Regions from separate parts of the Homo sapiens genome. Here region 1 is linked to region 2. The links come from fine-mapping of genetic effects on plasma protein levels. A gene starts in region 2. The other region holds a variant in brackets. All regions are shown on one strand. Distances are between the middles of the regions.

Region 1 (11,371 bases), 31 kb before region 2:
GTGTTTGATTCTAATTTATAATTGCTGAAGAAACTGGACAGATTGAAGGGATTTCTGAGATCTTCAGAACTGGGCCCTTATCTTAATCTTCAGAAAGGAGAGGGCTTAATGTAAGCCTTAAAAGCATACAAGCACTTACTGACCAAAGCCTAAAAGAAATCAAAGTATAGGTTAAATCGGGTTCAGCTCTCTCACCATGATCCATGTTTATTTCCTAGGAAAAAAGGAGCTATATTAGGTAGAACTGCTCTAACATTTTTCCCAAAATTAAAAAAAATTCTATTAATCCACTTTCATGTTTACTTATAGGAAATTCCTTCTGTCTGTTATACAATGCTTTTGCTAAGTGGTATATTTACTATGTCTGTAACAAGAAAATTACATATTAAATGATTCACTGCATTTTTTATTTGAAATTTTTAAGGTATCTGCATGTAAAATCTTCAGCTGGTGGATGGTGACTTTTGAAGAACAAAAGGCTTTGGCAACAGAAAACAATTGTTCTGGGTGATTTCTAGAATGGTTTTTGTTGAGTCTCTGAACATCCTAAATATTGGTTTGTTATTCTTTTCCAGAAAGAAAATGAATTTGACTGGTTCACCTGTGTACTGAGTATTGATAAACTTTGAATTTTTTTAATTGCCTTCAATTGGGAGAGAAAGCTTTATATTTGTAAGAAATATATTTGATAAAGTTTCTTAAAGCAACACCAAAAAAACAAAAGAAAAGCTAAGTGAATTTTTGCACATTCTACACACAGTGCCTGTAAATCTCATTTGTATTTTCAGTTTGCCCTTAATTTTTTTTGTTAGTGTTTAGAAAACAATGTTTTAAACATTCTTCAGTGTTCTGATTTCTTATTACCCCCTTTCCTCTTGGGCTTTTGAACTGTATTTGATGTTGCTTTGGGATAATGTTTATAAGTCAAACATAAGATATTGTACATTGGGCACATATCTCCTCTTGGGCTGCTAATAATAAATTAATAACAGGTAACCTGGACAAACCAGGAAGCACCAAACCCCTTTTCAGTTTGAACTCTTCTTTGCCAGGTGTGAGGACTTCTGCATCTTACAGTCAGCACAGAACACACTGAGACTTGAATCAAGTCAGCAACAGAGCAAAATAAAGGTTAGATAAGTCCTTGTGTAGCAAATTTCGAGCATAAGAAATAAAATCTAATTAATTCTTAGGGTACTCATCTGACTTGAACTCTGTTGGTTTACTGTGTTAGTAAACTGTGCTTTCTATTATCTATACATAAAACCTGAGCAGCAACTGTGTCTTTAGAGCTATTGCCACATTAGCCTTTGCACTGTATAGCGTCTGGCTTTATGGAACTTAAGTTTACCAAATATAAAAAGAAACTTCTGCTTTTAAAAAAATTATATATATATATTAAATTTGAAACCTGCATTTCTCCCACAGCAATGTAAGAAGTAGGCTCTGATGTCCTACCACTTTGAATGGTTTTCTAATATCTTAATGAATAGTTCCTGAACATTGCACTGATATCATCGATTAGAATTTTGATATTTAATTTCATCTTTATTTCCTGGTAGAGAATGCAGGAAAAGATGTCAGGTACATAACATAAAACAGATTGGGAATTTATTGTTTCCAAAGGGCATGGCCTTCCTTAGCATCAGTTTGAAGCTTTTGTTATGACTTAGCTGACTTGTGGCAGCGGGGCAAGCAAAAACAATAACACTGCTTATAAATGGCACCACATCTTGTTAACCTCCCCCCCAAATACTCTCTGAAAGTCATGCACATACCTATGGGATTTTACACACCACCAGCTTAAAATGCTATGTCTCTATCCATCAGAAATAGTCATTATTCTATTTTTAAGGCAGCAACAAGAAAAGAAAAAACACTTTTCCTGAGGGATTTCTAACCATGTATCTAATCCTCCCATTTGGGCAGTATAGGTGTTTGCTTTTTTGTTTTCTTTTTTTAAGAAAAACCTTGAAACCTTTGACACTGACAGATGTGTTTGCAAGGATACGGCTTCAGTATTACTAATTTCCATGTGTATCTGGAAGTATTTTTAAATGGCATACCAAAATCCAGAAGTTTAAAGATGCCTATAAAAGTAAACAACATTTATTTAAAAAGAACTCTGAATATGCCTTCTTTTTTAATTAGAAATATCTTCGAGACTTGGGTGTTTGTTAATAACTAATAACTGGAGTAAGCTACAGGATCTAAAGCAGCCCTTTTTACAGTCTAGTTAGGAGAGAGAAAATAATTGCAAATATCCACTTAGAGGCAAAGAACAATTTTTTATTATCAAAAAGGTTTCTGCACATTGTTGTGGCAATATTGTATCTGTTTAGAAAATGGGCTTTTCCAAAAGCAAACAAAGATAGGTTCCTCAGGTGACCAAAACTGAAAATCAATATTTCCATGTTTCATTAATCAAGGCATAAAATACAATTAAAGCAAAATATTTTACATTAAAATCTTGGTTGTGTATTTTTTTAAAAGAAGGGAAATAGTTTAGTTTGGGGTGGAAATTACCAGTGATTTCTATTTTTATTAAACCATTCACTACAACAAATAAGTATAAAAATTCCAATTCCACTTTTATACCTATTTATTTGTTGTAGTGAATGGTTTAATAAATGGCAGATTTATGTCCAGAAGTCACTCTATTTTGTCGTGTATTAGGGGAACACATTTTGACATTTTTCGTACCAATCATCAATCATATTCCCTTATCTTGAAGTTTTTGCCTTATATTCAAAAAGTTCAGTTTGAATTCTCCTTTGCCAGGTGTGAGGATTTCCGCACCTTAGAGTCAGCGCAAAACACGCTGCAACTTGAATCAAGTCAGCAACAGAGCACACTATGGGTTAGATAAGTCCCTGTGTAGCAAGTTTTCAGAATAAGAAATAAAATCTAATTCTTAGGGTATTAACTGACTTGACTTGAACTCCGTTGGTTTACCATGTTAGTAAACTGTGCTTTCTATTATTATCATCTATACATAAAACCTGAGCAGCAACTGTGTGCTGAAGCAACCGTGTGTGAAGTCTTCACAAAAGAAAGAAAGACTTCAAAGCCAAAGAATGTCCTATTTGCTAATATGAGCAAATATTTTGTTTCACAATGTACTATCATTTATTGGTGACTGCAATAATTTACTGTCAGTAAATGCCAATAACTAGTTAGTTAGAAATTGTAAAGTAGGCCAAATAAGAAGCAGAGAGAGAAAAAAAATCACCTCCCTAAGAAAAGGGTTTTCCTACAGACTTGAATGCACTCTGCTTTTTCAGAAGAGATACTGTACCAGTCAGGGAAATAGATGACACTCACTCAGAATTATCTGAGGAGGGTTCTATAAAAAGATTTTTTGCAAAAGTGCGAGCACATTATGTAGAAACCACAAGTCCGCCAGGACTAGTAAAAGCCAGACTCCCACTGAGGCCACTAATCCTGAAGGGATGAGGAGGGAGCAGTTACCAAAATCCAGAGGTGGAGAAGGCTGTGTGGAAAAGAGGGTCCCCTCTCGGAGCTAAGACCCTCAGGGGAGGCCAGCCCGAGGCATCCCGCAAGGGAATCAGGGAAGAACACCTCCACCTACTACCTCCTCCGACCCCAGCTCCAGCTCTCCGGCTCCCCACTGACCAACATCCAAAGGGCAAGAAAGCTTGATGACTTGGCCTTTACAAGTCAGCCCCTGGGCATGGAGCAAGGAAGAGGGATGGGCAGCGGGTCTGGAGGGGTGAGCCGGGAGAGCTTTAACCCAGTCATCGTCCGGCTTAGTCTCAGATCCAGGTGTTCATTGTTCAGTAGTCGACTATTCAGAGTCTTTCGAGGAGACTGATGAAACAGTTTATGAATGATAAACATGGGGTACAGGGTTTTGGACACGGGTGCTTAAGCATAAACTATAAAATGAGAAGAATAAGGTACTTTATTCTTCTGTGGCAGGGAACCCAACACTTGGGTTTACGTTGCAGGGCAACACCTGTGATGAACAAAACACATGGTAGCGATAGCCCATTCATGAAAAACTAACAGCTATTCTTTTCACAGGGATAGTCAAAAAATGAGTTGAAGGGAAAAAAGTATCTCCAGTTGGAGCCAAAACAGCCATCTCTAGTTTGAAAATACACTCAACAAAATGTTGGTGATTAGAGATAACAGGAACCTGGCAAGGGAGGAATTTTTACATACGTTCAAGCTTTTCACTTTGCAGCCACACTCTGATTTTATCAAAATTCTTATCCATCCAACCGATGTTTTCTTCAATGGTTTCAATTGTCTGTTGGACACAACGGAGCTGAGAACCATTTTCTTTCAAAGAGCTGAAGAATCCTTTTACCTTGTGAGGAAAAAGTGGGTTTTAAAAAATTAATTTTATCACATTAATCAGATGTAACTTTAGTTAAAACTGAAGCCAAAATTCCAGCATTTGTCAAAATTCTATATAGAAGGCAGTCCCAGCTGTCTGAATAGGATTATGTACACATAAGCTGTATGAAATGAGCTCATGCCTCATGATGTCAAGTTCTGTTTTTTGTCTGCAGTTCTTTTGTTTATTCTCAGTTGCCAGACTTTAAAAGACTTCACTGTTTACCATTTTATAATTAAGGTTTAATTGTGTCTATTTAATGTGTTATTCTGTTCTGTTCTCACAGATGCAAACTTCGTTTTTTAAAAACATGATATCTAAAAAGCAGAATGTGCAGAGTCTTTTCTTTGCCAAGCAAAACAGTTTCCACCACGTAAGTGCTGTCTTTCTCCATGGGCCTGGCCTTGTATGTTATTATAGAAACACTGTGGGGAATGGGATTCTTAGCAAGTTATGGCGGTAAGACCCAAACCTTGCCATTTTTTTTATCCTAATCTACAATTCATGTATTGTTGTCTCAAGATAAAATCCACATAAAGTTCCCCATGATTTTAAAGAGATAAGAAACTCTTGGCTACCTCCTGAAAAATATGTTTGTTCTTGTTTCATTTGTGGGTATCTTAATTCACCCCTTGAGCTCACATGACAGATAGGCTGGCTTTGCCACAAGATTGACCATTGTGCGATTCTGTTTCACCTTAAAGGGTTATTATCCTTTTCCCATAAATTTTCACAGCATTAATCCATCAATTTTTGATTTGGTATTCAGGAAGCGAATGTAGACCATGATGTATTATTTATTCAGCATAGATTCCAGACAGCCAGTTCCTTAGAAATCCATGTCATAATACCATATTATTAGTTTGGGAATAAAGAGGGGAGTAGGAATGGGTTTTAGAAAGATCAGAATTCAATTTTAAATGATGCAGAGTTGTTTTAAAATTATATGTCAATACAGTGCAACTTTACAATGAGCAGAAGGCATGGCCTCCTGCTGTAGCAACCTGGAAAACACTTCACTCTCTACTTTAAGTTGTAGCTCAACCTACTGTTTCATACGCTCTCAGAATGCAAGATTAATTCACAGTCGATTAAAAATCACTGAGCACTACTCAACAAAGCACATCAATAATTTTACTAATTGTTCAAATCATTAATCCTAAAGGAGCTCATCATGATAGCTCCACTAAAAACAGACCTTCTACAACAGCGAAGCCAGCTGTTAACCATTACTCTTACCCTTGTCCTGACCCAAAATCATCTCTTCTGTCTTCACCTGCCTTGGAAATGCAACATCTCCACTGAATATTTGATTCAGACTTGGCTCTTTAAGAACAATTTCTGTGCAATAAGTAGCACAATACAGGGATAGGAAAACAGGTTTATCCTACTAACTTGATTTGAGCAAATGATTTAACTTCTATGGAAGCCAGTCTCCTCATTTGTAAAATGAAGAGCAGTGGTGAAGGATGTAGTTATATAATGCAGGTAAAGTGCAAAGCCCCAAACCCAGCATGTATCAGGGACTTAACCTCATCCATTTGTTCACCAATATTTACTCTGATATTTATTCATCCCTCTGCTGTAATTACTGTGCTAGACACTGAGGATGCAGCAGTGAATCAGGCAAGCATCCTCCCCTCATGGAGCTTACAGTCTTTTGGGGTATACAAGCAGTAAATATGATTACTGTAAATAAACTGCTATGAAGAAAATATGCCAGGGGTATGCTAGTAACTGAGGAGATGTGGCCTGCATTGAACAGCATGGTTTTGGGGAAGGTGATCTGAGCCGAGACCTCTCAAAGATAAAATGCCCCTTTCTAGTGAAAAGTTGGGGAATGGGCAAGCCAGGCAGAGAGAATAAAAAGTGCAGAGGCTTAAAGACAGGAGAAACATGTGGTAGCCCAGGAGCAGAAGGAGGCTGAGTGGCTACAGTGTTATGAGAGAGTAAGCCAGGAGCGCCTGTGGGAATTGGCACCAGAGAGGTCCTCAGAAGCCAGGTCTTCAAGGTCATGGACACATGGGAAGGAGGGATTTGGAATTTACTGCAAGAACAATAGGCAGGGTTTCAAGAAGCCAGGGTCAGTTATGGGCTGACTTGCAGTCTTCAATGTGGAAAATGTTTTGCTATTGGCAAAGTGGCAAGGGGGAGGCCAGTTAGGACACTATTGCAATAGGCAAGGCAAGAGATGAGAAAGGATTGAATGGGGGTAAGAGCAGAGAGAAGTGCGCAAGATCCAGTGCATGTGCTGAGGGAAGACCGGCAGGACTTGCGTAGTTAGATGTCTGGGGAAGAAAGGATTCAGGATGACTCCCGTATTTTATATGTCCGTAGTTTGCTCTCCATTATGATAACATCTCGGGCTCTTTACTTTTCATGCCCTGCTTCAGGATCTTCGCACCTGATATTTCCTCTGCACACAATACTCCTCTAGATGTTGGCATTTCCTTCGATATCTTCTCAAATGTCTCCTAATCATCCTATAAAACAGCACCAACCCTCTATCCCAATCACTCTCCTTGCCTTATTCATCTTCAGAGCATGTAACTACTTGACATTGGTTGATTTGTCTGTAATTGTCTGATTCCCACAGCAGAAATTTCAGCTCCGTGACAGCAAAGGTTTTGTCTGTCTGTTCACTGTTACAGCCCCATAACCTAAAACCATGTGTGGCATATATGTCTTGAATGAATTAATGAGAATACAAGTGAATGAATGAAATGCTTTGTTGCTATAGATCTTGTCTATAGATGACTACCTTTCTGGTCAAGGCTTTGGACATCTCTTCAGTCATCAGACAGAGTATCTCTGCTCTAGACCTCGCTGGAGTTCAAGCTTGAATTATTATATGCAAGTTAATTTTACAAGCCTGGATGAGGCTACTGAAAACTGGAAAAAAGCTACGAGACTGTAACAACCCTTCATTCTTTTTCATTTCCAAAGCTCTCTCCCCATCTCAAGCTAGAAAATAGTGTAACCAGACTACACAATGGAACCACTCCTAAAAAAATTAATATTAGCCTCTCAGCTTTTATCTAAATGTACCACAGTTTAAGAGCCTTGTAAAATTTGTTCCACAACTTTACTATAGGAAACCTTATTATAGAAGGGACACCACAGAACTCAATGGCCCACACATCAAAGTCCTCGAGTTTAGGACTGAAGAAAAGTCTGCTTTTGTAGAAAATGTGTATGCTTCATGTTCTCTTTTACCAGACAATGAGAATAACTCATACTGATTCCTCATTTTTCCTTGACTTCCAGGAATGTCTGTGATAAATTCAGGGGACAATTGCGAGAATTATCCTCAGCCATAAGTCCCTCACATGGTTATCACCTGTCCATTATGTATCTTTTTGTCCTTCATTTTAACATTTCTTTTATACATGGATCTTAAAGCTGCCTGAAATTCTTTCTGAAGGTAGATGGTTACATAATAAGTGACAGGGAACCATGAACTTGGATGGTTTATAAAGAACCTAGATTCCGGACCTGCCTCTTTAGCAACAGCTGGATGACCACTTCAGTCATTTATACCTCAGTGCCCACTTTTAACATCCTTAAACAAGGACTAATTGTCTCAAGTAATTTTCTTCAAGTCCTAAGGTTTTTACTGGCAGAGCTAAGACCTCTTAACGTGTCTGAGAAGAGGCACAGTTTTCACTAGTTTAATTGCAACTGATTTATGCTGCTGTCAACACCATAGCATCCAAAAATAACTTCTAAATGACAATCCATTTCTAACTCACCACACCCTCAAAGTATTTTGTCTACCCCATATTAATTAGCTAATTTTCATTTATGTTTAAAAATATATATATAG[A/AT]TTTTTTTTTTTTACCTCTTCAAGCCGTGTTCTTGTGGAGAATTGATTTGTTGTACCCATTACCATGTGGGCTATGGAAGATGAGCCAAGTTCAAACCTAGAGAGGGAAATATTCAAAAACGGGTTGTGAAATACTTATTCATTTAACATATATTTTAAGGGCCTCCTATATATAATAGCTTTCAGCTAAAAACTGATCGGTGTGAAAAATACAAAATATGATGTCTATCCAATGGGTTAAGATCTAGCTGTAAAGAATAATACACACCAACAGCCTAATAAAAGGTTAAGTATCCAACAGAAAATGACAGAAGCAGGAAATGCTATAAGAGTTAGACAAAGACAGATGTGAACAAGCAAATGTGTTCATGGAAGGCCTGGGCTGAACTGTGAGGAGGAAGGCTTCAGATATGTCCATGGGCTCAGGAAGGGGTTATGCCAGATGGAATGGAAAACATCCCTGTCCAGATTCACTAGTTAGCACTGAAGTCCAGTTTTATGTTTTCTACAAATATTTTAGGTATTTCTACTGCCTATCTTCAATCAAAAAGTACCTTTAGACTGTTACTGTTCTTTTACAAACAGCAAGGCTAAAACACAGTAAGGTTATGAACTTATCCAGTCACAGCACAATTTTTGGCACCACTTACTTTTGTACAAGTTTGTTCCAGTTTTTCCTCAGAAATTGCCAGGCCAGTGGGTATCCTACTGGGTTCCTGCCAATGAGTGTAAGAATTTGTGGAAACTCCTGAGTTTTTATTTTATCTCCCTTAAAGCTTTCATCTAGTAGCCTAGAAGGATTAAGAAAAGAAATGTTAGCAATGAATAGGTGATGAAACAGTTATGAATCACTGCAATAAAATTACTTGTAAAAGAAAAAAAAGTCTGCCAGTAACAAAGGTTAAAAAGATAAATGGGTAACCACAATCCTGATAAACCCACTATAGCTACATAATAAAAACTAACATTTATATAGTGTTCATAACACCCATTCTCATATACCCTCTCATTTGCTCAAAAGAATAGTTAAGGAAGAGTAGCTCTAGTAAATATTTTTAATATGTTGTCATTTTAAAGATGCACAAATGTATACACCTTTAAATATTTTTCCTAACACCTGGTTCTCCCTAATTATTTGCCTTTCTCATTAGATGTGTGCTGACTTGCAGTATGTTCCCAGCAGGATAGGCAATTCCTGGCCAAGAAAACAAAAATAGATGCCAGAATGATCTAATCTAATCTAATTTCCCTTGGCCACATGAACATGAATGAATGACGGACTCACCATTGAAGCTTTTCCTTATTTTGGGTTCTGCAGAGGGCAAATTCAATTTGGCTTTTCTCAGTACTGGACAAAGAAAACTGATATTTACTATAAAGAAAATCCCAGCCTTCTGTGCTCTGGGCCCCCACAGCAAACACTGCCAAGGTCACGTCGACAGGCAGGCTATAGAAAGGAACACACTCGGTGAGAATCTGAGGTGCAGTAAGTATGTTTAGAGGCATAATGGTGACTAACTATGAACTGCTGAACTTTCCCCATGATCAGAGAAGCATGCCTGGAAATATAAACAAAAACTACTGATTTCCTTCAGTTACAATTTTTTTTTTTTTTTTTTTTAGGACGGAGTCTTGCTCTGTCACCCAGGCTGGAGTGCCGTGGCTCGATATCGGTTCCTGCAAGCTCCGCCCTCCCGGGTTCACGCCATTCTCCTACCTCAGCCTCCCGAGTAGCTGGGACTACAGGCGCCCGCCACCATGCCCGGCTCATTTTTTGTATTTTAGTAGAGACGGGGTTTCACCGTCTTAGCCAGGATGGTCTTGATCCCCTGACCTCGTGATCCACCCACCTCAGCCTCCCAAAGTGCTGGGATTACAGGCGTGAGCCACCGCGCCTGGCCTAGTTACACTTTATAAAAAAAAGGCAAGAGAAAAATATCTAAAATTAGGTTTTAAGTAGCCTTCTCAAAAATGTGAAATGCCATTTTTATAAATACCTACATATTTAAATACTTTAATGATGCTGGGTGACTCCATAGGGGATCACCTTTCAAGCCAAAAGAAATTCAAACTATATTCAAAATTTACACCATGATCACAAGTCAGGACGGCAGTAGGACCACTGTTTGGATTTCTTTAAGCTGAAGCATGTAGGTTGTTGGCATAAATGTTTCCTGGGTGGGGTTTAAGCTCCAAATGTAAAAAGGACTGAAGTGTAGCAAGAATAGGGATTTCCAGATACGGTAAAATCCTACCTTGCTTAGACAGTGTCAGCAATTACTATGCATCCCTGTCAGGGAATTTGGAAGCCCAAAGAAACTACTATAAAATACAATGCATGTGTTTCTCTATGGCATGGCTGTCACCGTTTAATAAGATTTTGCATTGCCTATACAAAATGAGAATTATTCCCATACCATCCTAACTCCCCAGATATTTGACTTTTATGCATAGAAGTTCCCTCCTAGCATTTCTTAAAGTTACGAGATACATAGATAAATCTTAAAAAGCAATTTATTTTCCAGAAAAGGGCAGCAGGGGAGACACTTAAACTTTTTGTTTTCCCTAATGTTTAGTACCAATGATGGAAAACAGAAAAGATGCCCTTCACATCAACAAATTGGTTATTTAGTAAGGACTGACCTCAAGTTTCCATTGGATTCCTTCCACTTTCTGAAATAGCCTTCTGCCCTCTGTACGCACGGCTGATAGTTGTGCACACAGGCGAGGAGTAGTAGTTGACTCCGCAGCATTCGCTCTGAGACTGAGCCCTCGTCTGTCCATGTCTGCTTATCAATGAGGTCCCTTAGCAGCCTGATGAGGAAGGCCTGAGGGCGTTGTACAGGGAAACAGGGACCAGTATTGTCACAGGTCATTTCATGTTAATATAATCCATTATGGTCTCAGATGATGGGGGCTAATTTTTAAAGCATAATCTAACTTTTACTGTATAAATCATGCAGCACTGTTTAATTATAAAAGGGCCAAAAACAATAAATAATGATGAATGACTTTCATATTTTCATAACAAACTTTTATAAGATATCCATCTACTTAAAGTCAGGATGAATTGCGACTTTTAAAACAAACTCAAAGAGAGTTTACATGACTAAATTTTGAGAGCAAATTATGCAACAAGACTTCAGGACATTTTGCCAAGCATAACAATTTTGTGCCTC
Region 2 (15,850 bases):
CCCAGGAGGCAGAGGTTTCAGTGACCTGAGATTGCGCCATTGCACTCCAGCCTGGGCGACAGAACCAGACCCTGTCTCGGGAAGAAAAAAAAAAAAGTTAAAAAGAAAAAGTAAAAAACAGGGAAAATTCATTTAAGAAGTATGTGAGGAAAACTTAATAGCCTTAACAGATAGTGAGATCCTAAAAATATGTAATCCTAAAAATGGCTCATACCTGTAATCTTGGCACTTTGAGAGGCCTAGGCGGGCGGATCACGAGGACAGGAGTTCGAGACCACCCTGGCCAACATGGTGAAACCCCATCTCTACTAAAAATACAAAAATTAGCTGGGTGTGGTGGTGCGCGTCTGTAATCCCAGCTACTCAGGAGGCTGAGGCAGGAGAATTGCTTGAACCCGGGAGGCGGAGGTTGCGGTGAGCCGAGTTCGCGCCACTGCACTCCAGCCTGGGTGACAGAGCAAGACTCCGTCTCGACAAAAAAAAAAAAAAAAAAAAAAAAAAAATCCCCAACAACCAAGGGAATCTCAGGCAAAGTCAAAGGTCATTAACAGGCAATTCATAAAAGAAGAACCTATAAATCATTAACAAACATATCAAAAGCTGCTCAACTTCCTTAATCAAAGTTACGTAAATTAAAAAGAGATCATTTATTTGGGGACCTTTTTTGCTCTAAAAAGACTGCCAATATACACTATTGGTGAGGGGTAAGAAAAAATGACAAAGTTTATCAAAAATTTATAGGCTCTTTGGCTTACCAATTTTACTTCTAGGCATTTATTCTAAAGAAATAATTTACAAAAATGCTCATCAAAGTGTTGTTGATACTGAAAAATTGGAAACAATTTCATTTCCATTCCCGAGGGATTAAAGATATTAATGTACAACTATGTATTTTAATAAAATCATTAAAAAGATGTCTAGTAATAGTCATTTATATAAAACATCTTCCCAACATATTAAGTTAAAAAATTTCCTTGTAAAAGAGAAAATATAAGAATTCTATTTATATAAAATAATATATATGCATATCCAGAAAGAAGTCTGGCAGAATATTCCAGTGAAATAGAAGTAGTGGTCAGTTCAGGGGGCTATGAGTGAAATAAATTTTACTTTCTTACCTTGATAAAATAATATGGAATTTGAAAAATAAATTAGTATAATCTACCAACAAATAAAATTCCATTTTAAAACTGAGCATAAAATCTCCCCCAAATAAGTCTCCTCCTTAAAAACAGAACCAAAGCAAGGTGAGAAGAGATCTCTAAAAAAGTTTTAACTGAGATAAAAGTATTTCCTCTAATATGTTGCTAGTAGGATTTGCTGAAGTCCTAACCTGTAGTATCTGTGCATGTGACCTTATTTGGACATAGGGTCTTTACAAGTATCATGGAGTGAAGAAGAGGCCACCAGGCTGGGCCCTAATCTGGTATGTCTGGTTTCCTTATAAGAAGATGGAGACTGGGACATAGGAAAATAGAATGGCCATGCGACTAACAGAGGGAGAAACTAGAATGACGCAGGTGCTAGGCATGGAGTACCAGGGATCCACGGCCACCACTAGATGCTAGGAAGATATAAGGAAGGATTCTACCCAGAGTCTGGAGGGAGCACGGGCCTGCTGACACCTTGATTTCAGACTTCTAGCCTCCAGACCTGAGAGAGAATACATTTTGTTGTTTATAGCTACCCAGTCTGTGGTACTTTGTTACAACAGCCCTAGGAAACTAATACACAGTTCAGGAAAATTAAACATGTTTATTATGTCTCAGAAATCGAACCAAATAAACAAATAGATATTTACTCTGATAGAGCTGGGGGAAAGAAAATTGGTTAAAATAGAATTTTAAAATGAGATTTAAAAAGCAAGGGAAAAAGCCATTTTTAACACTATAAAGAAGATGCAAAAGCAAAACTGAAGAAAAAGTTCAACAGCAAAGGGAATTTTAAAAGACAATCAATCTGAAATAATGAATTTAGCGTGGGCAGCACTTGCAGTTTAAAAGAAAAAGAGAAAAAAAAATACCTCAGTTCCCCTTCCTTGGTTCTGTAGGTGCTTTTGTAAAATCCGTGGAAAGTCTCCGAAAGATTGCCAGCATAGTGAATGACAACTGTGTACGGGAGCCCGACAAGGAGGGGCTCGGGAGCCAGCAGTGCAATTTGCTCCTGACGGGGGTGTTCCAGGACCTGCAGGGGTTCTTCCGATAGCCTCTCTCCAGCTCCCTTCCTGAGGGTGGCCCTAGATATCTGCAGGTGGTGACTATGCAGGATGATGGTGCTGGTGGGCTGACTGGCTGTGATTTCTACTTTCGTGGTTCCCCAGAAGGTCAGCGTGGTAAGGTTTGCATGGATCAAGAGATCATAATGAACTGGGATGACGTACTCAGGAAGTCGTATTTTATTCCAAGGAAATGGTGTCCCATCACTACGTTTTGGAGATGCTTCAGTGCTCTGACACCATGAAGGAGTGGACACAGTTAAGAGAGCCAACAGTGAGGAAAGTAGAAATGACATGGTTGCAAGGGACCATTTGAGGGGCAGAAACACCATCTTCTTGCTCTACCTACCTAGCGGCACAAATGTACAAAAGCAAAAATATATGTCATTAAAATGTTATTGACACAGCATAATTTCAGAATGTATCCACCCAGCATTCACAGAAATAGGCATAAACTTCCAAAAGTACTAGGTCTTTTCCTGAAAGTAAAAGGACCTTCCCTATGTTATGGTTTCATATAAGAAAGATGTTTACAGTTAGCAACAATCATTAACACGTACTAGAAAGCATCATTTGATGTTCAAAGTTTAAATTAACTCTACCTGTCAGGGTTCTTGGTTGAAAGCAACCGAACAAGCTCTGGCTGATATAGGCAGAAAAGGAATCATTAGGGGATCCTGAGTGGCTCACTACACGGGTCACAGAGTTGCAGGACATTTGGGAAACCAGGCTCATGAAAGAAGCAAAACCAGAACCATATCAGAGGAACATCTGATCAAGCACCACTCCCCACTGACACTGGACCTTGGAGAAAGTCACCCTAGTACCCTGGAAATCAAATGCTGACACAGTGGCAGCCACCACTAGAACGAGGTCTCCACTTCCCCTGTAAGTATATGTAATGGTAACCTTTAATAACATCAGTGTCTTCCTCAAATTGTCATGCCAAAAGTTAATTACCTATTTATTTAGCCAGGAAGAGCTTAAAGAGCTTAATTTTCCCAGTAGTTTGTGGCAAACGTATCAATCACCTGGATTGATTTTAAAGACATAAAAGCAATGTGAATTTCAGGCCAGGCATGGTGGCTCACGCCTGTAATCCCAGCACTTTGGGAGGATGAGGTGGGCAGATCACAAGGTCAACAGATTGAGACCATCCTGGCCAACATGGCGAAATCCCGTCTCTACTAAAAATACAAAAATTAGCTGGGTGTGGTGGTGCGCACCTGTAGTCCTAATTACTTGGGAGGCTGAGGCAGGAGAATCGCTTGAACCTGGGAGGCAGAGTTGCAGTGAGCTGAGATTGCACCACTGCACTCCAGCCTGGCAACAGAGCAAGACTCTGTCTTTAAAAAAAAAAAAAAAAGGCAATGTGAATTTTAAGGAAGTTGGCAAACCATGCCCCAAGCATCAAACATAAGTTTTTATTTCTTTTATACAAACGCACCTTTCTAATGGGTGTTTGCCAAGAGGGGCCCATACCAGGTGAATGCAAGTGATTGGCCCAAACTCCTCGTGTTCCAGTTGGGAAAAGTAGCAAGCTTACAATGTGGATCCCTCAAAGTGTTCACAGTACATGGAATTCTCCCTCTCTGAGATGTCAAGTTTCCTAACTCTGGCTGCATATTAATGTAACCTGGGAAGCTTTTAAAATTTTCGATGCCTGGGTCCTTATTGACAACAATTAAACTGGAACCTATGGTGATAAGATCGGGGTATGGTTTTACGGATTGTTTAATTTCTGGTTTTTGGTTTTTTTTTTTAAAAAAAAAAAAAACTGTCCAGAGATTTTACTGAGAAGCCAAGGTTGAAAAGCTCATCCTTGCCAAATCCTGGCTTTCCCCCTTCAACTCTATGTGATAGGATACTAATTCAAGGCAATGGCTGAAGTGCCTTCCCTAACCCCTGACTTCCTTGCTCCCTTCCCAAATGCACAGCTCAAGGGAATTCCCTTCTCCTCACCTCTGGAGCAATCTGGAGGCTAAACAGAAAGGATACCTACACATTAGAGAGAGTCTTGGAAATCTCATAATCCCAGTTCAAAAGGCACCACCCAGGTGAGACAGGAAGTGTGAACAGGGAGAACATTTTTTTGCCCTTGAAGTTGGGGAACTAGAGAGTAAATGGAACTTGTGTTTTGCTTTCCATATGGAATTACTGGCAGCAACAGCTTAATGAGCATCGCCCCTGCCCCAAGACGGGATCCAGAGGACTCTGTGAAGGTGGCAGGTTCAAGCATGTAAGGACTCTGAAAGTCCCCGAGACCTCTCCAACAGCCCCAGAGAAGATCTAGAAATTCCAACTCGTTATGAGCTGACAGAAAGGCTGATGTGCTGCGGAAGGGGTTGGTACCGGGACCTTGGATCAGAGGCTTTGCAGGGTTGGGTCCATGAGGGGTCCAAAGAGAAACAGTTATGTCTCAACGAGGATGCAGTGCATGAGTGGGGCTTGGTAAAAACTCCATGTAGTGAATAAAGGGCTTCACTAATAAATTCTCTTATTAATCCCAAACTGTAGGCTACATCCAAGATTCTGTGATCATGTTCGTGTGTTTGGCTCTTCCCCTGAAAAATTAGCTCTTGTTTGGCTTTGCTTCCAATAGTAAGTGTTCCAGTTTGAAACATGGCATTTCATGGTTCTGGCTGGTCTCCTAGGGTCTGGTTTTACTAACAATTTTCTGAAAGGGAGGCAGTTAAAAAAAAAGAAAGCTCTCAAAAACAGTAGTCTACTCAATATAAGCAGCTCTTCCCAAGAGAAGTACAATTCTCTTTGAAGTTACACTCCACTAACACTTAAAGGAATAGAAGCCAAGGAGGAAAAAGAACTAATATTTACTAAGCTCCTCCAAAGTGCCAGGCACTTTACACATGCTCACTCTCTCTAATAGCCTATTATTCTCATTCAAGGTGGGGTAACTGAAGCAAAGAACCATTCATGTAACTTTGCTAAGTTCACACAACTTGTTGGAATGCAATCCACATCTGTGTGAGTATAAACTCCCTGCTTTTTCAGCTTCACCAAGATCCCTCTTTTTTTTTTTTTTTTTTTTTTTTGAGACGGAGTCTCGCTCTGTCTCCCAGGCTGGAGTGCAGTGGTGCGATCTTGGCTCACTGCAACCTCTGCCTCCCTTCCTTTTATTGGGGCACTATAGTATATGAAATAGATCATCAAGAAGTAATTGAGGTTCTTCCAGAATTTCCTGAACAATGAAATTAACAAGCACTGTTGGTAAATAATAAAAATGCTGGATTAATTTGAAAAAAAAAAAAGTACTAGAATGTTTCTATTCAGGCCGCACCTGAAAATGTGCTACTTATACTAATTAAAAATCCTCAGGCAAGAGACAACTGTGCCCAATTTTCAAGTTTTTTGTTTTGTTTTGTTTTGTTTTGTTGTTTTGTTAATTGTTGACCACGTCCTGAGTTCAGAGCGAATCCTCTGGGTGTTTAATAGGAAACAGATAATTTCTTTCTGAACCTAGCCTACACAAAGAAATCCAAAAGCGTGAGGAAGTGTGTGCTCTCCCCCTTCCCCTCATGGAATTAACTTTGTAGGACCACCTGGCCAGTGAGGCACCCAGATAGGAAACTTTTAATTTGCGTCAACAGAGGTGCTTTATCTGAATAAAACCCAGCCAGAGCCAGAGCGAAGGGGAGAGAGAGAATTGCTGACCAGAAGAACAGGAGAAGCAGGGAGGGAAGTGACCTTAAGAACACACACGGCCCGCGCATCCCACCCCACCAGAGTCTTTAACCCAAAGCCTCTGGGTTTCTCTAGCAGCTATGGGCAGGTGCCCTCCTCAGCCCGAGCCAGCTGCCCGCCCCACCCCGCCTTTTGGCCTCGCGCGGGCGTCGGTGGCCTGCAGGACTGGCAGGCATCCAGGCGCCAGGCGGAGCGCTGAGGGAGGCTCCCGCCGGCCGAACAGCGGGGAGACCCGTGAAGCAGGCGCACCGGCCACGCGCCCGGAGGGACAGGGACAGGGACCGGCAGGGGTGGGCCCGCCGCCAACCCGCCGGGCACCCCGCGGACTCGGGCCTAGCCAGCGACTCCCCCCGCCCTTCCCGCGCCCTGTCTCGCGCCCCGTCGCCTTCCTCCCGCGCCCCGTCGCCTTCCTCCCGCGCCCCGTCTCCCTCCTCCCGTGCCCCGTCTCCCTCCTCCCGTGCCCCAGGCCCTCAGCCCCCCACTTGACGGGCGCAGGGAAGGGGCGGGTGCCGCGCTCTCCTCCCGGCCCGCAGTCCCCTACCCGCGGCTCGAGCGCGCTGTACCTGGGGTTCTGGGGCCGCCCTCACCCTTGCGCCGCCGCCACCACCACTGCCGCCGGCCTAGCTCCCCCAGGACCGAAAGTGAAAGTGGAGCCCGGGGAGCGGCAGGCTGGCGCTGAGCGGCGCTTCGGCCCGAGCCCTAGCGGCAGGCGGGGAAGCCCCTGGCTAAGGCGGGAGCTGGGGAAAGGGTAAACGGGAGTGGGGCCGAGCGAGGGAAGCCGCAACTCCCAGGAAGGGAATTGGTAAATGAGCGCTGCACGCCGGGGAAGCTGCGAGGTTGCGATGCGGGGGATCAGGCGTAGGAAGTGCACGCCTTTCTGAACGCGGATCCGTGTGTGTGTGTGTGTGTGTGTGTGTGTGTGTGTGTGTGTGTGTGTGTGTGTGTGTGTGTGTGTGTGTGTGTGTTGAGATGCTTTTTGTTTTTGTCTTTTTTTTTTTTTCACTGTTTAGCGTTGCGAGGGTTAGGGGCATGCAGGAAAGGGCCGGTGCTCAAGTTGGGGACCGAAGCCAGGCAGGCGCTGACAAGTCCACCAAGCCTAGACGCGTTCGACGCCCATTGGACTCGCTGGGTGTCCGTCATCTCGCCACTGCCAGTGGGCTGAGAGCTCTTGGCCCGCCTCGGAAAGAAACATGAACCCAGTACTCTGTCGTGGCAAAGTGCCGCACCTTCTGGGGCTTCGGTAGAGAATGACTACAGTGGGAGATGCTGTAGAGGAGGAAGGTGGGTTAGAGGTGGCCCCCAGGACTTTCCTGCACTACCAAGGGCCACTGTACCCCAAGGATTAGCTGCTTCCCGCATCAACACGTTCCCTCTGATTTTTCAAAGTAAATGACCATTTCTTCACTCCCCTTAGAACAATTAAAGCTGAATAAAATGGCCAAAAAGACCATCTTTAAACAGTTGAGGCTAAATGAGGTAACAAGTCAAGAAAACACAAACATTAAAACACCAAATGCTACAAGTTTATTACCGAAAATGGGTCCCGATCCAGACCCCAAGAGAGGGTTCTTGGATTTTGCGCAAGAAAGAATTTGAGGGGAGTCCATGGAGTAAAGTGAAAGCAAGTAATTAAGAAACTAAAGGAATAAAAGAATGGCTACTCATAGGCAGAGCACCCCCAAGGGCTGTTGGTTGTCCATTTTTAGGGTTATTTCTTGATTATATGCTAAGCGGGGGAAATTATTCATGCCTCCCCTTTTTAGACCATATAGGGTAGCTTCCCGACGTTGCAGTGGCATTTGTAAACTGTCATGGAGCTGGTGAGACCGTAGCAGTGACGACCAGAGGACACTCTCATTGCCATCCTGGTTTTGGTGGGTTTTGGCCAGCTTCCTTACTGCAACCTGTTTTATCAGCAAGGTCTTTATGACCTGTGTCTTGTGCCTACCTTCTATCTCATTCTGTGACTTAGAATGTCTAACCTCCTGGGAGTGTAGCCCAGTAGGTCTCAGCCTTATTTTACCCAGCTCCTATTCAAGATGGAGTTGCTCTGGTTCAAACGTCTCTGATAATTTGGTGAGTGGACCATGGTCCTAGTGGGAACAGGACCCTTTTCATGCGGTTCTCAGACTTTCTTCTCCCACTTCTTTATTGGCCTTCTTCCCTTTGAGAACTGGGGATTCCAAGTCACTGCAACAGTATTTCTCTTTTTTTTTCAATATTATGTTTCCTTTTTAAAAATATAATGTTTCATACTGCCTATTATCTCTAGTCAAGGACATTTTATAATATAAAGATTAACACCCTGTTCCAAGACTCAACTACGGTGGGATCCAGGGAAGTTTTTTTCACTAAAATTCAACAAGAAATGAGGACTTTGAGATCTGGTAATTTCTGCATGTTCAGAATTTGACAGGAGGTATCAATGGATAGCGTGTAGCCTCCAAGACCTCCAGACATCTCGGAGTGCTCCCAGTTTACTCAAGATGAGACCTCTTTGTCCAGTAAATGTATGCATTTCTTTGCTTTTATATTTATATTTTTGAATATGATGGTTTTCCTTTGGCTTCTAGTAAAGTTTTTTTGTTTTTGTTTTTGTTTTTTGTTTATGTGTCTTTTTAAATACATATTGAAAGTCCAGCTGGCAGAACTGAATGCACCCAACAGGCTGGAGGTTAATACAGAAGACAGCTGAGGAGACAAACAGGGCAATGCCCTGAATGGATGTGGGCAGAAAGGAGCTGAAGTGTAGGCGAGGAGAGAGCTGACACCACCACCCGCTCCACGCCGTTTCCCCAAAAGCTCACCCTGACTCAGACTTTAGCCTGTCGCCCTGGCCGTGATTTCGTCTTTAGAGTTGAAGTGCACTACAAAGAGCGATAAGTCAGAGGATTTGGCAGCATTCACTTCTAGTTTCAAAGCCCTAGCAGGGATGTAGAGGACACAGACCTTGGAGTAAGGACTTTAAGGAGTCCTAGTTCTAGAGCCTGTGAGATCAAAACAGCACATTACCGAGCTTAGAAATGGTTAGAAGGAAGGGAACAGAGAGAAAGGGTACCTAGGTTTATTGATTCCCTACCAACTGTTAGATACTGTTAAATGCTAGCTATGTGTGCATGTGTGTGTTTATAATTTGATCTCTTCAGCAACCCTGTAATGTAGATATTATGCTTTATAGATGAGAAAAATGAGACAGGTCGGCAACTTGCTCAGAGTCAAAGAGAAAACACACACTAATTCTACTCACATTGCATTGGCCAGAACAAGGAGGGGTTGGTAAACACTAATATTGTATACCATATAGTGTAGGAGGGCTGGTTGGCCGGTTGAGCCCATCCATTGCAGAGGCTTCTCAGTGTCCTTAGTCCCAGAGGTGAGCCAGAGGAATGAGGAGAATTTCAGGCCTAGGCCAATGAAATACATACCACTTTGAGCTATTACTGATCTACTTAAAAAATATTGAATTCTAGATATTGTCAAGTGATGTTCAATTTTGCTGTAATTGATTGATTCAGTTCTGCTTTCATTAGCTTTTAGTCAATTAATGTCAGCGTTTGGCTCATTTCTTCTGTTTTGCTGCCAAAGCTGCTCCTATTTTAATCATATTACCACTCTCCTTTTTGATGTAAAATCTCATCCAGAATCATGGTGTAGAAAACAGACAAAAGCAGGCCTGCTCTTATTAAACAGGGCAGCTCCACCCAGTCAGCCTTGCCCACTGCTATCCGGCCCTTCCACACACATTGTGGTCCTTGAGACTCTTCCATAGGCTCCCAGGGCCTTAGAACTTAATTTTTTTAAATGCCAATTTAAAAAAAAATAATAATGCCCCTCATTCTTGATATTCTTGATAAAGAGGATGACTTTTTTCCCCCTCTGTGCCAAGTTGCAGAGCAGGCTTGCTTAACAAAAGCAATACCATCTTATTAATAATCAGAAACAGGGAAGACGGTACAGATGCCATGTTAAAGACTGTTCCAAAACAGGCCACTGAGCTCATATCAAATAATAAAGTCCTCTGAAATGTGGCAGCTTGAAAGCATTTACATATAGTCTATCTCATGGGATCCTCACATTGTACTTATGCAGGTGGCTAGTAGCTCCATTTTTCTAGAATGAGGAAACAGGATTAGAGATGTGAAGTGACCTACCAGGGGCCACCACATGGAAAAAGCCTGCTTTAAAGTGAAGCCAGTTCAAAGGACAGCAGGGCTGACAGAGACAGAGAATACCTCCACTAAAGCCCTCAGCTCCAGCTGTCCTGAGCAAATCCTGTCCTTAGACCTTCCATTCAAGAGGACCAATGCTTTCCTTTTTGATTTAGCCAGTTGGAGTCAGTCTTCAGAGAGAGTCCTGTATTACCATACAACAGAGCACTATGGGAGCGAGCAATGTATGCCAGATTCTGTAGGAACAACTCAAGCAAGTTGAGTGACCACAGCTGCCCTTGAACTTCTAGAATTGTGGATCCTGAAGAACATTCTAGGTGCCACGAGGACTGATCACATGTTTCCCATTTTCCCTCCCTCAGGCATTTATTTCACAAGATACTGCTGTCTAAGGTAACCTGAGCATGTTTCCAGTTCTTGCAGCCTTACAGAACCCAGGGAATCCACCTGTCTCCAACCTTCCTCAGTAGGTGACAGGCCCATCTAACTGCTCTCTAGCCAGTCTTCTGTATTCCTGTTGCTTTTACCTTTGCTCGTGTCAACAAGGAGGTAAGTCACCATGACATATTTCTTAAATTTGTATTTCTTTCATCACTAATGAGACTGAATATATGCACTGAACATATGTTAATTAGCCGTTTTTGCTTTGTGTTTTCTCTTTTGAGAATTATATGTTTATGTTTCTTGTCCATTTATCTACTGGAGAATCACAATTCAGTTATATAAAAATTATCTATGACACACAAGAGAAAGCAATGAAATTTCTTTAAAATGCAAAGTGTCATAGTCAGTAAAGCTCTACTATTTCAAAGAAAACCCACAAATGTGTCTGGATAAATCATGTCAATTTCTTAAAAACCCAGATCTATACCCGTTATGGTGAGTTGTTTGAAATATCAGAATTTACTAGATATTGTCAATATGAACAGATTAAAGCAAACCTTTGTTTAGGAGGCTTTATTTTATTTATGGCTCCCTCTGCCACAGCTATTTCACAAAGAAAGAATGAATTATCCAGCCAGGAGTGAACATGATCTTTGCATATGCCTAAAGGAATGATAAAAATATTGGGATGAAAAATATGTAGATTTGTTTATTGTTATTTTTTGAGGGACCATGGTGTTATGCTACTAACTGTCTTGCCTTAGCTATAATGAATATCTGTTGCAATAACTAAACATGGGAAAAATAACTTTTCAAAACCTTAGTTTCTAGAAGGTTAATGGATTTTATTATATTGAAATTAAATGAGCTATGATACAAAGGAGAAAAGGAAAGAAACGAATAACTTTCTCAATGAAGTTCTGTAAAGTATATACAATTGGGGCCTGAAAAGAGAAACTCATTTATGCTCATCCATACATGGCAGTGTGAAATTGACAGAGTTTGGCTTAAGTGAAGTCTGTGGTTCTAGGAATGCTTGCAATTTATTGGAAAATTAGATTGTGATTATGGAAGAAATGACTCAAGTGGTCTTCAGGCCACCACAGCCTTTCTTTTTTTTCTTTCCCAACCCTTCCTAAGAGACAGTTCTCCTTATCTCATTTAAACTTATGGGTTTGAACTAAGTGGTGGGAAGTGGAAGAAAGAGACATTATCTTACCCCTATAAACCTACAACACTCCCTTGGCTACCCTGGTGCTTAGGAATGCTGACTTTATCTGTCCTTAAGAAGCTGTCTGGACCATAGGAGGAATGCTTGGTTTTATTTACAAAGCTGTCTAAAGGATGAACAAATGAAGTGTTTAGAGGCCCTTTGAGACAAAGAAATACTAGCTATCAAATTGAAGAGAAGGGCAACAGGTTAGGCATAAACATTTTAAAATGCAAGATAATCTCTAAGCCTTTGAAAAATTTTAAGAGTAGTCTAATAGGCAGGTTTAGGGAAATAATTAAAATGACCTCTAGGCCAGGCGCGGTGGCTCACGCCTGCAATCCCAGCACTTTGGGAGGCCAAGGCAGGAAGATCATGAGGGCAGGAGATCGAGACCGTCCTGGCCAACATGGTGAAACCCTAGCTCTACTAAAATACAAAAATTTAGCCTGGCGTGGTGGTACGTGCCTGTAGTCCCAGTTACTTGGGAGGCTGAGGCAGGGGAATCCCTTGAACCCAGGAGGCGGAGGTTGCAGTGAACCAAGATTGTGCCACTGCACTCCAGCCTGGCGACACAGCAAGACTCATCTCAAAAAAAAAAAAAAAAAAAAAAAAAAAGCCTGGACTGCCTGCATAAGGCATCTTCATACACGAGGAAGATAAACACCTTACCTTACTTGTTTAACAAACTGTAGTTAGCATTCTGTTATATCTAGCTAAAAGAAATTCTAAAAGATAGCCTTACAGATCAAGCCATAAAGAGCTAAATCATTTCAAATATGTGTTCTCGTGTTATAATGTTTTTTTAGTGAATCCAACTGTTATGGTATTTGTTTAGGAAGTTTTCCTTGTCACTTTTTACTATCTTGTCTAAGAAAATGGCCCATTTCCTTCCTTTGGAGGAAAAGTGTCTCTTATTGTTAATTTTATTAGTTATCTATTATTGTGTATCAATAATACGAACATATCAACTTAAAACAACACATTTATTAACTCACAGTTTCTGTGGGTTGGTAGTTTCTGTGGGCTGCAATCAAGATGATGACTGGAGCTGCAGTCTCACCTGAGGCCCAGCAGAAGGGAAGGATCTGCTTCCAAGCTCACATCATTGTTCCAGCATTCCGTTCCTCATTGACTATCGGATTGAGAACCTCAGTGTTTTGCTGACTGTTTTCTGGAGGCTGCTCTCAGATATGACTAGTTCCTTGCCATATCCTATGGGTTAGAAGCAAGTCACAGGTTTCTCTCACACTAAAAGAAAGGAAATTATGCAAGAGAATGAATACCAGGAGGCAAGGATCATGGGGGCAACTTAGATTACGTCTGCCACACTAATGTTACTGCACATTGAAGATATTTCTACTATTATAATCTTAGGATTGGCATAGTCTGTGTTTTTGAGGCAGGGAAGGAGACATATATCAAAAAAATAACTGGTGAGTGGATAATTGGGAAGAAATTACAGAAGTGACTAGATTCTAGAGACTAGAAAGATTTGGTTCTTCATTGAGCTGAAAATAGGAATATCTCCCAAATAAGAGATATTCATGAGAAATCAATGATAGCTTTTTTCCTGATGGAAAAATGAATTAGCTTATGCTCATCAGAAGTGATGCCAAATTCAGGAGAAAGAAGGCAGCTGACATCCTGACCAACAAAGAGACCAAGCCCCGATAACTGGATTTGAACATCGGTGAAGAAGATGATTAAAGGTAGAAAGAGCCTTTACAGTCTAGAGAAAATAGTATAGGCCCAATGGAAGCTCAAAGTTGAAGAGACTTTTAACAGAAAGACAAAGGAAAAGGTGTCCTTGGGACTAGGGGTCCGAGCAAGACCTGAATTATAAACTGAGCAGCCACAGAGAAGCACTACAGATGTAGCTGAGTTATCTAGGCCTAACACCAAATATTCTAGAAAGACCCAAAGTACTAACCAGCTCTGGCAGCAAGACCAGCCCATGTCTACCTCTGCAGAACTTTGAGAATCTTTGGCTGATTTTTATTACCTAACTCCCTGTCCATAAGAGAAGGGAAAGAGACCAAGACTGAGTGGTTGGATCAGCCAAAGATGTCAAAATTAAACTTCAGTTAAATTAGCAAGAATTCTGGGCTTTTCTGTTTCTGTAGCATTGTGTTAGATTTGTTTTTTCCCTTGGTTTTCCAGTCCTGGTGGTAGATTGCTAAACTTTTATAAAATCTGTGTGAGTTTAGCATTCTGACTGTTCCCATTCTAAAAGATGAAAATAGAAAACTCAAAGTTTATGTCACTAATTTGATCTTTGTAAATGCACTGCTAAATAAAACACCCAAACTATTAAGGTGTTGTTGTTGTTGTTGTTGTTTGTTTTGTTTTTTATTTTTTTTTTTTTTGAGATGGGATTTTGCTCTTGTTGCCCGGGCTGGAGTGCAATGGTGTGATCTCGGCTCACAGCAACCTCTGCCTCCCATGTTCAAGCGATTCTCCTGCCTCAGCCTCCTGAGTAGCTGGGATTACAGGCATGCGCCACCACATCCGGCTAATTTTTGTACTTTTAGTAGAGATGGGGTTTCTTCGTGTTGGTCAGGCTGGTCTTGAACTCCTGACCTCAAATTATCCACCCACCTCGGCCTCCCAAAGTGCTGGGATTACAGACACACTCAGCCATTAAGGTGTTTTTAATTCTTTTTTTTCTTTACTGTTTTTGTAAGCAGTAATTTATTAACAGATGCAATAAGTAAATTGAAGCAAAAAAATACATCACAATGCTTAAGAAACTTGCTTAACAGAAAAAAGATTCCTGAGCCACACTCTGAAAAATTCTGATACTGTAAATCTTGAGAGATAAATAGACACATATATGTATGTGTGGATAGACGGATGGATGGATAGATAAATGGAAAGATAGAGATCGAGATATAGCCTAAACTTCATGGCAAGTATAAGCTACTTTTGGGAATTTAGGGGAATAAAAAATTATTTTATCACTGTTGTACTAGGAACAAAGCAGATTTTCCACACGTTAGCCAGAAAATGTAGGAGAATCAGTGAACCTCAAAGGGCCAGCACTAAAAACTGGGCAGCATCAGTATCAGTTTTGGATCCTAGAAAAACTATTGGAGATGATGCAAACAGAAGAGGGAAGAAAGGTAGACAGAGTCTGGACTCAGCTGCAGTTTGTTGATGACTATCTGAATCGTTCCCTTGCATTCTTTCTTAACGAATTATACATGTGAAAATTGCACACTTGAAAATTAAAATATGGGTATGTACTGGAGGGAAAGCACTGAGAGAGGAGTTAGGGGCTGGATAGGCAGATAGAGATGGAGGGTCTAGGGAGAAGGGACAGAAAGGAACAATGTTCACAGGAACAACTGCAGGACAGCACCTACCCCGCCTCTGCAGCTAACAGGAAGAAATGTGGTTAAGAACTTGCCCTTATGCCAGGATGTTGCTCAGCAGGGACGGTCTCAACTTAGGCACAGGTGCAACAAATCAACCTAAATGTCCTTAATTTGACCCAGCTCACTATAATGCCATTAACATAACATTAGCGTTGTGGTTTTAGGCACCTCCCACCATGGGTTTCACTTAGGCATTCAACCAGTTGGAGTCACTTTGGTCAACCTTAGGCATGCGTAGATATAGTACCCCAGGAGGGAATTTTATCCCTCCCATGTGGGCAAAACCCACAGAAGACTTCCTGGCTTCTGCCACATAAAAGACACAGAACACAGACACCTTACTGGCAACCTGCTTTCAGGACCCCTCTCTTCGCTGAGAGCTTTCCTTTTGCTTAATAAATTTTACTCTGCCCTACTCACCCTCCATGTCTGTGTGCCTATTTTGTAGTTGTGAGATAAGACCCCGGACCTCACCAAACTCCAGGGGCAAAAGCAGACTGCTACAGCACCAGAGTGGCCATTCTGCTCGTGAGTTTTGGACTATACATTCTCAGTTGGCAAAACAGAGGAACTGTATAGTAAGGAATTAATAAGTGTTCATTGTTTAGAGAGTACAAACTCTAAGCAGAAAGGAGGATTACATCAACTAGGACACTTTTGAAAGAGAAAGTAAATGGTAACCTAAAGACTTGGGGTTGGAGGGACGGGCAACCAGCATAAATCAAGTCTCCCCATGGGCAAAGCCAGGGAACACAGAAAGCCATTCCTGCTAGGCAGTCCCAGGGCACAG

The links. PIP is the posterior inclusion probability: the model's chance that the variant is causal. Sun 2018 read protein levels with aptamers (SomaScan).
Region 1: its variant is fine-mapped to the plasma level of the ERAP1 protein (Sun 2018, PIP 0.95).

Annotation. Positions count from the first base shown.
Region 1 is chr5:96,772,216-96,783,586 of GRCh38, forward strand. It overlaps ERAP1 (endoplasmic reticulum aminopeptidase 1), which reads right to left. Exons shown (of 19, transcript NM_001040458.3): 15 at 10,836-11,020; 16 at 9,478-9,639; 17 at 8,843-8,983; 18 at 8,208-8,289; 19 at 2,269-4,336. The coding sequence ends at 4,181. CAST (calpastatin) reads left to right here. Exons shown (of 32, transcript NM_001750.7): 32 at 425-2,468. Among named protein-coding and RNA genes, the nearest start is that of ERAP1, 30 kb to the right of the region's middle. RefSeq lists an enhancer at 8,157-9,356. The variant A/AT (reference allele first, on the strand shown) is at 8,193.
Region 2 is chr5:96,801,380-96,817,229 of GRCh38, forward strand. It overlaps ERAP1 (endoplasmic reticulum aminopeptidase 1), which reads right to left and starts at 6,566. Exons shown (of 19, transcript NM_001040458.3): 1 at 6,481-6,566; 2 at 2,024-2,564. The coding sequence starts at 2,547. It overlaps LOC124901033 (a long non-coding RNA gene), which reads left to right and starts at 6,079. Exons shown (of 3, transcript XR_007058879.1): 1 at 6,079-7,198; 2 at 10,449-10,635; 3 at 12,698-15,479. RefSeq lists a silencer at 5,987-6,446 and enhancers at 6,019-6,520, 6,521-7,020, 7,177-7,246, 15,536-15,675.